Homo sapiens: one gene and its partner. The protein of the gene in region 2 purifies or fractionates together with the protein of the main gene of each other region. This does not show direct contact. Each region holds a gene or a part of one and is shown on either strand. Other genes may lie near its edges.

Region 1 (4,015 bases), on a different chromosome or scaffold from region 2:
TCATCTGCTTGCTTGCTTTCAAAAACATGTTGCCATTTTTTATGATCTCTTACCTCCTCTCTCCCTGTTCTCTCTGCCCTTGTGGGTTTATCACTTTTTATTCTTCTGCTACCACTTAATTAAAGTTTAAGGAGGAAGTGAAGATAAACACATCAATCTATAGCTTTTAATCAGTATTTTTTATTTTTATTTTTTGAGACAGAGTCTCACTCTGTCATCTAGGTTGGGGTGCAGTGGTGCGATCTCAGCTCACTGCAACCTCCGCCTTCTGGGTGCAAGCAATTCTCTAGCCTCAGCCTCCGGAGTGGCTGAGACTACAGGTGTGCACCACCACGCCTGCCTAATTTTTGTATTTTTAGTAGAGATGGGGTTTTGCCATGTTGGCCAGGCTGGTCTTGAACTCCAGGCCTCAAGTGATCTGCCTACCAAGGCCTCCCAAAGTGCTGGGATAACAGGCATGAGCCACTGCGCCCCGCCTTAATCAGTATTTAGGTGTCACTTGTCACCCCCCGACGGACTGCTCACTTAGCATCACTAACAGAATTCTGATCGCCAAGGGTTGTTTTGGTTCACACAAAGAAAGAAAAGTATAGGCGTTTTGGAGGCAACTGGGCAAGAGTGAGAATAAAGAGTAAAGGAAGAAGAATGAAGTTTAAATACCATGCAAATCCATGAGAACAGAGAATATGTAGAATATAAATAATTAAGTTGTAATTAGCCACAGCCAATCAAACCAGGCAAAGGGGAAAGCTTGGTGTAGCCTGAGGGTAAAAAAAAGGAGCTAGAGGTACAGAGTATCTTAGTTTTCTATAATAACCATCAGGTGGTACTGCTGACCCAAAACAGCTTTGTGGCTATTTGTGTAGCCAACGAGTGGGAAAAGAAAAGACAGCTATTAGCTGTAGGTGGTTACAACATGAGTCAGTCACAAGGCTGTATCTTGGAAAATGGCTTCAAGAATATACTGTAATAAAAAGTTGTTATTTGACAAGAATGAGACACTTGGAAAACCCACAGGATATTAGTTGATCCCAAACTCCAGCTATCATCAAGAGCACGTCAGACCTACCATCAAAACTTTTTTTTTTTTTTTTTTGAGACGGAGTCTCCCTCTGTTGCCTAGGCTAGAGTGCAGTGGCGCAATCTCGGCTCACTGCAAGCTCCGCCTCCCGGGTTTTTTAAGTGATTCTCCTGCCTCAGCCTCCTGACTAGCTGAGATTACAGGCGTGCGCCACCACGCCCAGTTAATTTTTGCATTTTTAATAGAGACGGGATTTCACCATGTTGGTTAGGCTGGTCTTGAACTCTTGACCTCATGATCCACCTGCCTCCACCTCCCAAAGTGCTGGGATTACAGGCGTGAGCCACCATGCCCGGCCCACAACTTCTAAGGATAAAGCCCAGGAATCCATTTTTAATGAATTTCCCTGTGGTTCTGATATACAATTAAGTTTGGAACCAACTGAACAAGCACATACTACAAAAGTAATTCTGCATCTTTTTTTTTTTAAAAATAGATTTTAACAGAGACAGGGGTCTCACTATGTTGTTCAGACTGGTTGTGAACTTCTGGCTTCAAGCAATCCTCCTGCCTTGGCCTCTCAAAGAGCTGGGATTACAAGTGTGAGCCATTATGCCAGGCTGGCCATGCTAAATACCCAAATACATTTGAGTAGTCAGGGACAGTGATATAGGGAGTAGCTAATGACATAAAGAATCTGTCCTCTAAATACCAACAATAATTCCTTGAGCTTAGTACTTTCTAAAGGCTTTCTGTTTGTTTTTTAAGGATGGAAATTTATTCTGTTATAATTACATTCTTCTTACATAGAAAAATGCCCTTGTTTTTCTTTCTTTGTTTTTTAGTTAATAGACTTTTTGGAGCAAGTTTAGGTTTACAATGAAATTGAGCAGATAGTACAAAAAGATCTCATTTGAAGGCCGGGTGTGGTGGCTCACGCCTGTAATCCCAGCACTTTGGGAGGCCAAGGTGGGTGGGTCACCTGAGCTCGGGAAGTTGGAGACCAGCCTAAACAACATGGAGAAACCCAGTCTCTTCTGAAAATACAAAATTAGCCAGGCGTAGTGGCGCATGCCTGTAATCCCAGCTACTCGGAGGCGGAGGCAGGAGACTCGCTTGAACCTGGGAGGCAGAGGTTGCAGTGAGACAAAATCACGCCACTGCCCTCCAGCCTGGGCAACAAGAGCGAAACTCCATCTCAAAAAAAAAGATCTCATTTGAATATCACAAGGAACTACTGCTGGAATCACTGTGAGCATGAAAGTCAGCATGATATTTTCACACGGTGACAGGTCTGTAATCTTTTCAGCTAACCATACATACCGTTCCTGAACAACTTTGGAGTACGCCCCAGCATTCAGTGTTTTTCGGATGAAGTCACAGATGTGAGAGCTCTCTCCTGGGCATCGAGGGAGTCCAAAAACACCTACAGTGGTAGATGACAAATATCCACTCCTTCAATAATGATGTATCGAATACCCACTATGCACAAGGCACTGTGAGAAACAAAATGAACAGGACCAAACTCTGATTTCATTCACTTATTCCTCATGAAAATAAAGCGCAGAGAACTAATACTATCACCAGCTTCCTCCTGGTGCTGCTACACTCTTTCCTGCCTAAGGATCTTTTTACCTGCTCATCCCTGGAGGATGTGTTGCATCACATGGCTGGACGCATTTTCAGCTCTCAGGTCTTGGTCCTACACAAGTCACATCTGACCACCTTATCTCAAATAGTACCCACCCCCATTTCCTTCCCCTCCCCCAGTTATACTTCATCCTTAGCATCCTCATCAATAACATTGTTTTGAGTAACACAAATAGTTCTAAGCAAAATATTGGCAATAATTAATTTAATCCTCACAACCACCCTGTGGAGTAGATTTCATTATTTGCCCTATATCACAGATAGAAAACTGTAAAAATGAGGTTAAATACCTTGTCCAAGGTTAGACAATAAGGTATAAGCCAGGATTCAGACACAGGCAGTTTGGCCCCAGAGCCCACTCCTTTAAGCACTACAACCACTAGTGTGTCCTTCGAACAGTATCCTGTTGTTTTTTTCCAAGAGATTGGGTCTTGCTATGTTGCCTAGACTAAAGTGCAATGGCTATTCACAGGCACAATTACAGCACACCACAGTGTCTTGAACTCCTGGCTTCAAATGATCCTCCAGCCTCAGCCTCCCAAGTAGCAGGGACTACAGGTGTACACCACCATGTGCCCAGCTATCCTCCATTTTATCGTGTATATATATATATGTGTGTGTGTATATATGTGTATATAAGTGCATATGTGTGTATATATATGTCTATATATGTCTATGTATGTGTGTATATAGGTGCATATGTGTATATATATGTCTATGTATGTATGTGCATATATGTGCACATGTGTGTGTGTATATATATATATTTCATGAATGCAAGAACCTTGTCTGTCTTGTTCCTGGCATATAATAGGTTTTCAATAAATATTTGTTAAATGAATGAATAATAAAGCTGTTTTTACCAACTTACGTTTGTATAATCCTTATACTTTTAAAAAGTATTTTCCTACCTATTATTTCACTTTATCCTCTGAAAAATTCCCATAGGACAGGCAGGGCCATATTTTGGTTTCTTCCATCTGTGAGTGGAACCTAAGATACCAAATTACTTGCCTAGGAGTAATAGTTAATTGGGTGAGTCCAGGTTTCCTGATTACACGGAGAATCATTCTGCTCCCACATTATACCAGCTAATAGCTATACCCATCAACAACAGAGATGAAATTCCATTCTAATGACACATCCTTCCCCAATAGTATGGAATTCCGTCAAAATAGAAAACCTGCTGTTTCTCAAAGAGTTTAAATTTATAGACACAAGAGCTTACACACTATTCTTTGCCTAAGCCTAAATTCAAGAGGATACCACCAAATCAGAGAACAGAAAAGGTCACTCAATTTTCCTAACTCCTCAACCACCACCTGCCACGTGGCTATAACCATC
Region 2 (4,985 bases):
GTTAGGAATAGGACACCAGCTTGGCCATCGCAACAGTCAGCCAGAGGGACGGGGCGTGCAGAGGGCCCCAGGAGGCTGGGGTCTGAATTCTAACCTGTCCCTCACCAGCAAAATGGACAGAATCCCACCCCACCTCCCCTAAGTGTGGGTTCTGGCAAGGCCTCGAGGGCAACAGGGCACTCGCCTAGGGTGGCACCTCGGTGGGTAGCTGGGCTTTTGGACCACAAATCCCTCAGAGCAGGCCCAAGCAGGCCACTGCAGCTGCTTCTGGACTGCTCGCAGAGAGGTCAGGGGACATACATGATGTTGGCCTTGTGCACGGCCGTCACTTTCTTGCGCCCGCTCTCCTGCGCCAGCTTGAAGGCATACTCGGCAATGCGCAGGGACTTGGCCTTGGTGATGATCTTCAGGCTCTCCACCACTCCCGCCACACTCTGAGGAGGGCATGGGGAGAAGAGACCCATGTGCTACTGAAGAGCAGCACTGGCCAAACAAGCTGGCGCGACCGGGCCACCGTGGGAAGCAACCCTGTCTGCCTATTTCTGGCTTCTCCCTCGGGCACAGCCCCTGCCCTCTAAGGGTACACCTGTCCCTGGTTCCTTAAGCTCTCCCCTTAATCTTGACGCTGGGGGGGCTCATCTCGGGCCCCCCATGCACACCTCATGCTCCAGGCTGCTGTACTCGCCCTCTGTGTTCTCCCGGACAATGAGGATGTCTATGTCCTTGTGCCGGGTCACCACGCCTGGAAGGCTCTTACAGTGGATGACGTTGGCATAGAGGTCCAGGCTGGTGCTGGGAGGGGACGGAGAAAGAGGCTGCTAGGCCTGACAGGTGGCTGACTGGAGCCAGACTCCACTGGCTCACCCCACCTTAGCCCCACCAAGCCCCCAGCCCGCACACCCGGATCTCACCGAAGGATGTTGTTTCGAGATTTGTGCGACGGTGGCAGGTTATGGTTGGTTTCGATGTTGCCTACAAAACACAACACAGGCTTAGTGGCACTGCCCATCCCCGCCCCACCTCAGCAGGGCAGCTGAAGGCTGCCGGGGTCAGAAGACTTGGGGAGCAAAAATGTTTCCTGAACACTAGAATGCTAGAATGCAACTTCCAGCCTAAGCCCCACGAGGCTACACGCTCAGGGATCTCGAAGGGCACCTGGTGCAGCAGGTGCTCCATGAATAACCCCTGAACGACGGAATGAACAAGTCAATAAATGAATAAAGGCTGGCAACCAGCCAGGCAGCCATGCCATTCTCCATCCAGGCTCTGGAGCAACAGAAAGTGACCACTCTTTACTAACAGGTTGGCCGGCCAGGCTGGAGCTAGCAAGGTGGCCTTGGCGGTGTTACTGCCAAGCCCCCGCATCAAGGCACCACACTCAGAGGCAGGCGGGGGCTGCCTGGAGAAGGCCACGGATTGGCCGGACCCTACCCTACGACCCAGGACACCTGGAGGAAGGGAAGCAGAGGCCAGTGGCCGCTGGAGACAGCAGTCAGAGGGCGCCAAGCAGAGGCCGCCTGCTGGTGAGCGGTACCCCACCCAGACTGCTCCACTCACAGCGCGGGGGTCCCCTGTGGCTGGCACAAAGGCCCCTCTACTTGACTGCCAGGGCCTGGGGCTCCCCCTGGGTTCATCTTTGCTCACACGCTCCTCACACAGTGCAAGTAATGGGCTGAGTGTGCAAAATGAGCAATGGAAGTAGTTTAAGGACCTCAAGTGAAGCCCCAAGAATCCCTGCCTGGGCTGTGCCATCCACCTCCAGGCTGGCTGCAGCCGAGGAGCCAGGCAGAGGGTCGGAACTGCATCTCTGTGATACCTGGTTTGTGAAGAAAGATGCTGAGGGTCAAAGCTGACCCCAGCAGAGAGGACTGTCTCAGGAGGGAAGGAGGGGTGGGAGGGAACCCATCAGGGAGCCCGTCACTGGACAGGCTCACACACAGCTGCTCTCACTCGAATCCCAGCATCGCAGCGCAAACAGGCCCGAGGAGGCGTCCACCCAGTCTCCAAGCACGAGGGTCCTCTCTAGCCAGACAAGCCCTGAAATCAGAGCCGTGGGGCCCCACAAGAGTCAGCTCAGAGGGAGGTAAAAGAAATCACAGGGGCTGGGCACGACGGCTCACGCCTGTAATCCCAACACTTTGAGAGGCTGAGGCGGGCAGATCACGAGGTCAGGAGTTCAAGACCAGCCTGGCCAACATGGTGAAACCCACTCTCTACTGAAAATACAAAAATCAGCTGGGCGTGGTGGCGGGCGCCTGTAATCTCAGCTACTCGGGAGGCTGAGGCAGGAGAATCGCTTGAAACTGGAAGGCAGAGGTTGCACTGAGCCGAGATCACACCGCTGCACTCTAGCCTGGGCGACAGAGCGAGACCCCATCTCAGAAAGAACGCAAGAAAGAAAGCAAGAAAGCAAAAAAGCAAGCAAGCAAGAAAGCAGGAAAGCAAGCAAGAAAGCAAGCAAGCGAGCAAGTAAGCAAGAAACGAAGGAAGAAAGCAAGAAAGAAATCACACCTAGGGCCCCATCCTGGCCCCTGGCCCTGGAGCTCACCCTTCAGGGCCACGCGGTTCCGGCGGATGGCCATGATGGCATTGCGAATGTCCTCTTCATCAGCATTGGAACTCACGTGCACCTCTTCAAAGTCCACTGGTACACATGCGTGCCTGAGGCACGGCAGGGTCAGGGAGGCTGGCCCAGACCCCCCCGCACCTCCTCCAGGAAGCCTGCCCAGGCTACCTCTCTCCTGTTGCTACCTGCCCTGACCTGGCTCTGACTGAGAAGGGACTGGGCCCACCTTCACTGACTGATGGGGACACGCTTGAACTCCACAATGCACACTGTGGCAGGACTGGTGCCACCTTCCCCGAGCCCAGGCCAGTCTGGCGGGATCACAGGCCATGGGACGCAAGGCCTGGGCTTACAGGTCGTCTTGCCATGGCCTCACCGAGTGCTTCTGGGCGCAATGCCCCTCTTGGCACAAAGTCCTCAGGGCCCCCTGGCTGAGGACAAGGCGGGGACCCAGGAGCTCCATACCTGAAGACGGACTTGACATGCAGCATGAGCTCTGGCCCGATGCCATCCCCTGGGATCATGGTCACCGTGTGCCGCCCGCCATACTTAGCGGACGGAGGCTGTGGGAGGCAGAGGGTGAAGGTGGGCCTTCGGGGATCCCACATGCCCCCAGCTCGGCCCCCATGGGCTCAAGCCAATTCCCTTCTTCCCACTGGCGCTGACCCCACAGGCTGCCCCGTCACAAGGTGCCAACTTGGGGCAGCCCCGTCCCAGACAGGGCTGCTCATCCAGGGCTCCTGGGTCAGCAGCAGCCCACCCCCACCTGGAATTTAGTTAACCCCAAAGCAACTAAGAGCCCCCCAAACCTAACAGGCAGAGAAGAATACTCACAATTGTTTGTTCCTAGAAAGGATGAGAAAGGAAGAAGACACAATCAGCCAAGGTTCCAAGAGCAAGGCCGTGACCAGGAAAGTGGGACCTTTTCCCAGGGGGATGCTGGCTAGTACAACTCCCAGAAGAGGGGTGGGTAGCCCCTGGAGACCACGTCTCAGAGGACAGGACACAGGCCGTGCACACACGCGCACAATTGCGGCCACATGGAGAAAGACACATGCGTGGGCACGGGCAGGTACTTACTGAAAAGATGTTCCTCGAGGGGACCTCGTGGGCGCCTAGAACCTGGCAGAGACCAAATGCCAGCGGTTGGTTTGATGTCTAACCCAGAAAGCCAAGTTGGAAGGAAAAACGGACCGTCCCCACTGTGCCCAGGCAGGTCCCCTGTCTGTGCAGCATGGCCCACTGCCAGGGGCACAATAGATAATTAGCTCCAAAGCCTCAGTCCCCAGGGCCGGCCCGCTGGAGCACCTGGAAAGTAGAAGGCGCTCCAGCCTCCTGCCTCCTTCCGCTCTTCAGAAAATTTCTTAAAAGGCGTGTCCCTGCCCTCCCTCCTCTTTTTTGCTTCTGATTATTTTTTTGGCCAGTTATTCCCGCTCAGCGATGTTTGTAACATGCAAAAACTGGCAAACTAACCCTGGTACAGCAGGGAAATCATTACAACAAACCACAGATCCATGACAACAGTCACGTTATCACTTCGCCGATCACTTTTTCTTATTACAAAAGCAGCATGTGGTCGCTACAGAAAAAGCAGAATAGGGAGATAAGAAGGTAGCACCCAGCCTCCGGCCTCCCTGAGACAAGCACTGCTGGCCCCCTGGGGAATGGCCCTTCGGCATTAGAAATCGAAAACAAATGTGTAGGGACATCCAGCCATTTCTGGAAGGTTGATAACAGAAACCCAACTCTAGGAAGGCCTTCGGAAAGGACTGCTGGATGCCGAATGTCCCCAACGCCCTGACTGGAAATGCCGGACAGCTTCAGAGCCAAAGCTGCCTGAGCCAAATGTGCCAGGTGCCAAGTGACCTGCTGTCCTGGAAGAAGCCCCACCTAGAACACACCTGAGACGGTGGCAGAGCCAAGGTCTTCCCTGTCACTTGGGGATGCCCTGCCACTTGACCACCAGGCAGCAGCAAAGTGTTCCAGCCAATGGCAGAAGCATCATAGCCATTGGCCAAAGAGCCATGCCTTCCAGCTAGAAGTCCAGAAAGGCTCGGGCGGAGTCTGACCTCTCCCTGTCTGTGTGTCCCTGGCCGGCACTCATCAGTCCAAGCCAGGGGCTAGGAGAGGGTGCCCACAAGGACCAGAGCCCCGAGGATAGCTCAGCTGATCTGTGTGGCACCTGGATCTGCAAGCACAGGCACGGTCGGGACTTTTCTGTCTTCTCTCTAGCGCTTATCAACGGGTCGGGACTTTTCTGTCTTCTCTCTAGCGCTTATCAACATCTGAAATCATCTTATTTGGGGGCTCTTGTAAGCACGCAGAAAGCGGCTTCGATGGACCTTCCTCCAGGGAGCTTTCCCTGATGCCCTAAGGCTACTGAGCTGGGACCCTAAGGCCCTACTTACCCCCTTCCCTA

What was found. The genes of interacting proteins can lie anywhere in the genome.
Region 1: the proteins of IDH3G (region 2) and PPT1 purify together in Homo sapiens (co-immunoprecipitation; one large-scale study listed by IntAct). This does not show direct contact.

What each region holds. Positions count from the first base shown.
Region 1 is NC_000001.11:40,087,066-40,091,080, forward strand, and holds part of PPT1 (palmitoyl-protein thioesterase 1 isoform 1 precursor), read right to left. Parts: intron 2,448-4,015; coding exon 2,345-2,447; intron 1-2,344. UniProt on the Homo sapiens protein: Has thioesterase activity against fatty acid thioesters with 14 -18 carbons, including palmitoyl-CoA, S-palmitoyl-N-acetylcysteamine, and palmitoylated proteins. In contrast to PPT2, PPT1 can hydrolyze palmitoylated proteins and palmitoylcysteine.
Region 2 is NC_000023.11:153,787,164-153,792,148, forward strand, and holds part of IDH3G (isocitrate dehydrogenase [NAD] subunit gamma, mitochondrial isoform a precursor), read right to left. Parts: intron 3,689-4,985; coding exon 3,647-3,688; intron 3,413-3,646; coding exon 3,401-3,412; intron 3,130-3,400; coding exon 3,032-3,129; intron 2,662-3,031; coding exon 2,549-2,661; intron 973-2,548; coding exon 912-972; intron 793-911; coding exon 660-792; intron 435-659; coding exon 301-434; intron 1-300. UniProt on the Homo sapiens protein: Regulatory subunit which plays a role in the allosteric regulation of the enzyme catalyzing the decarboxylation of isocitrate (ICT) into alpha-ketoglutarate.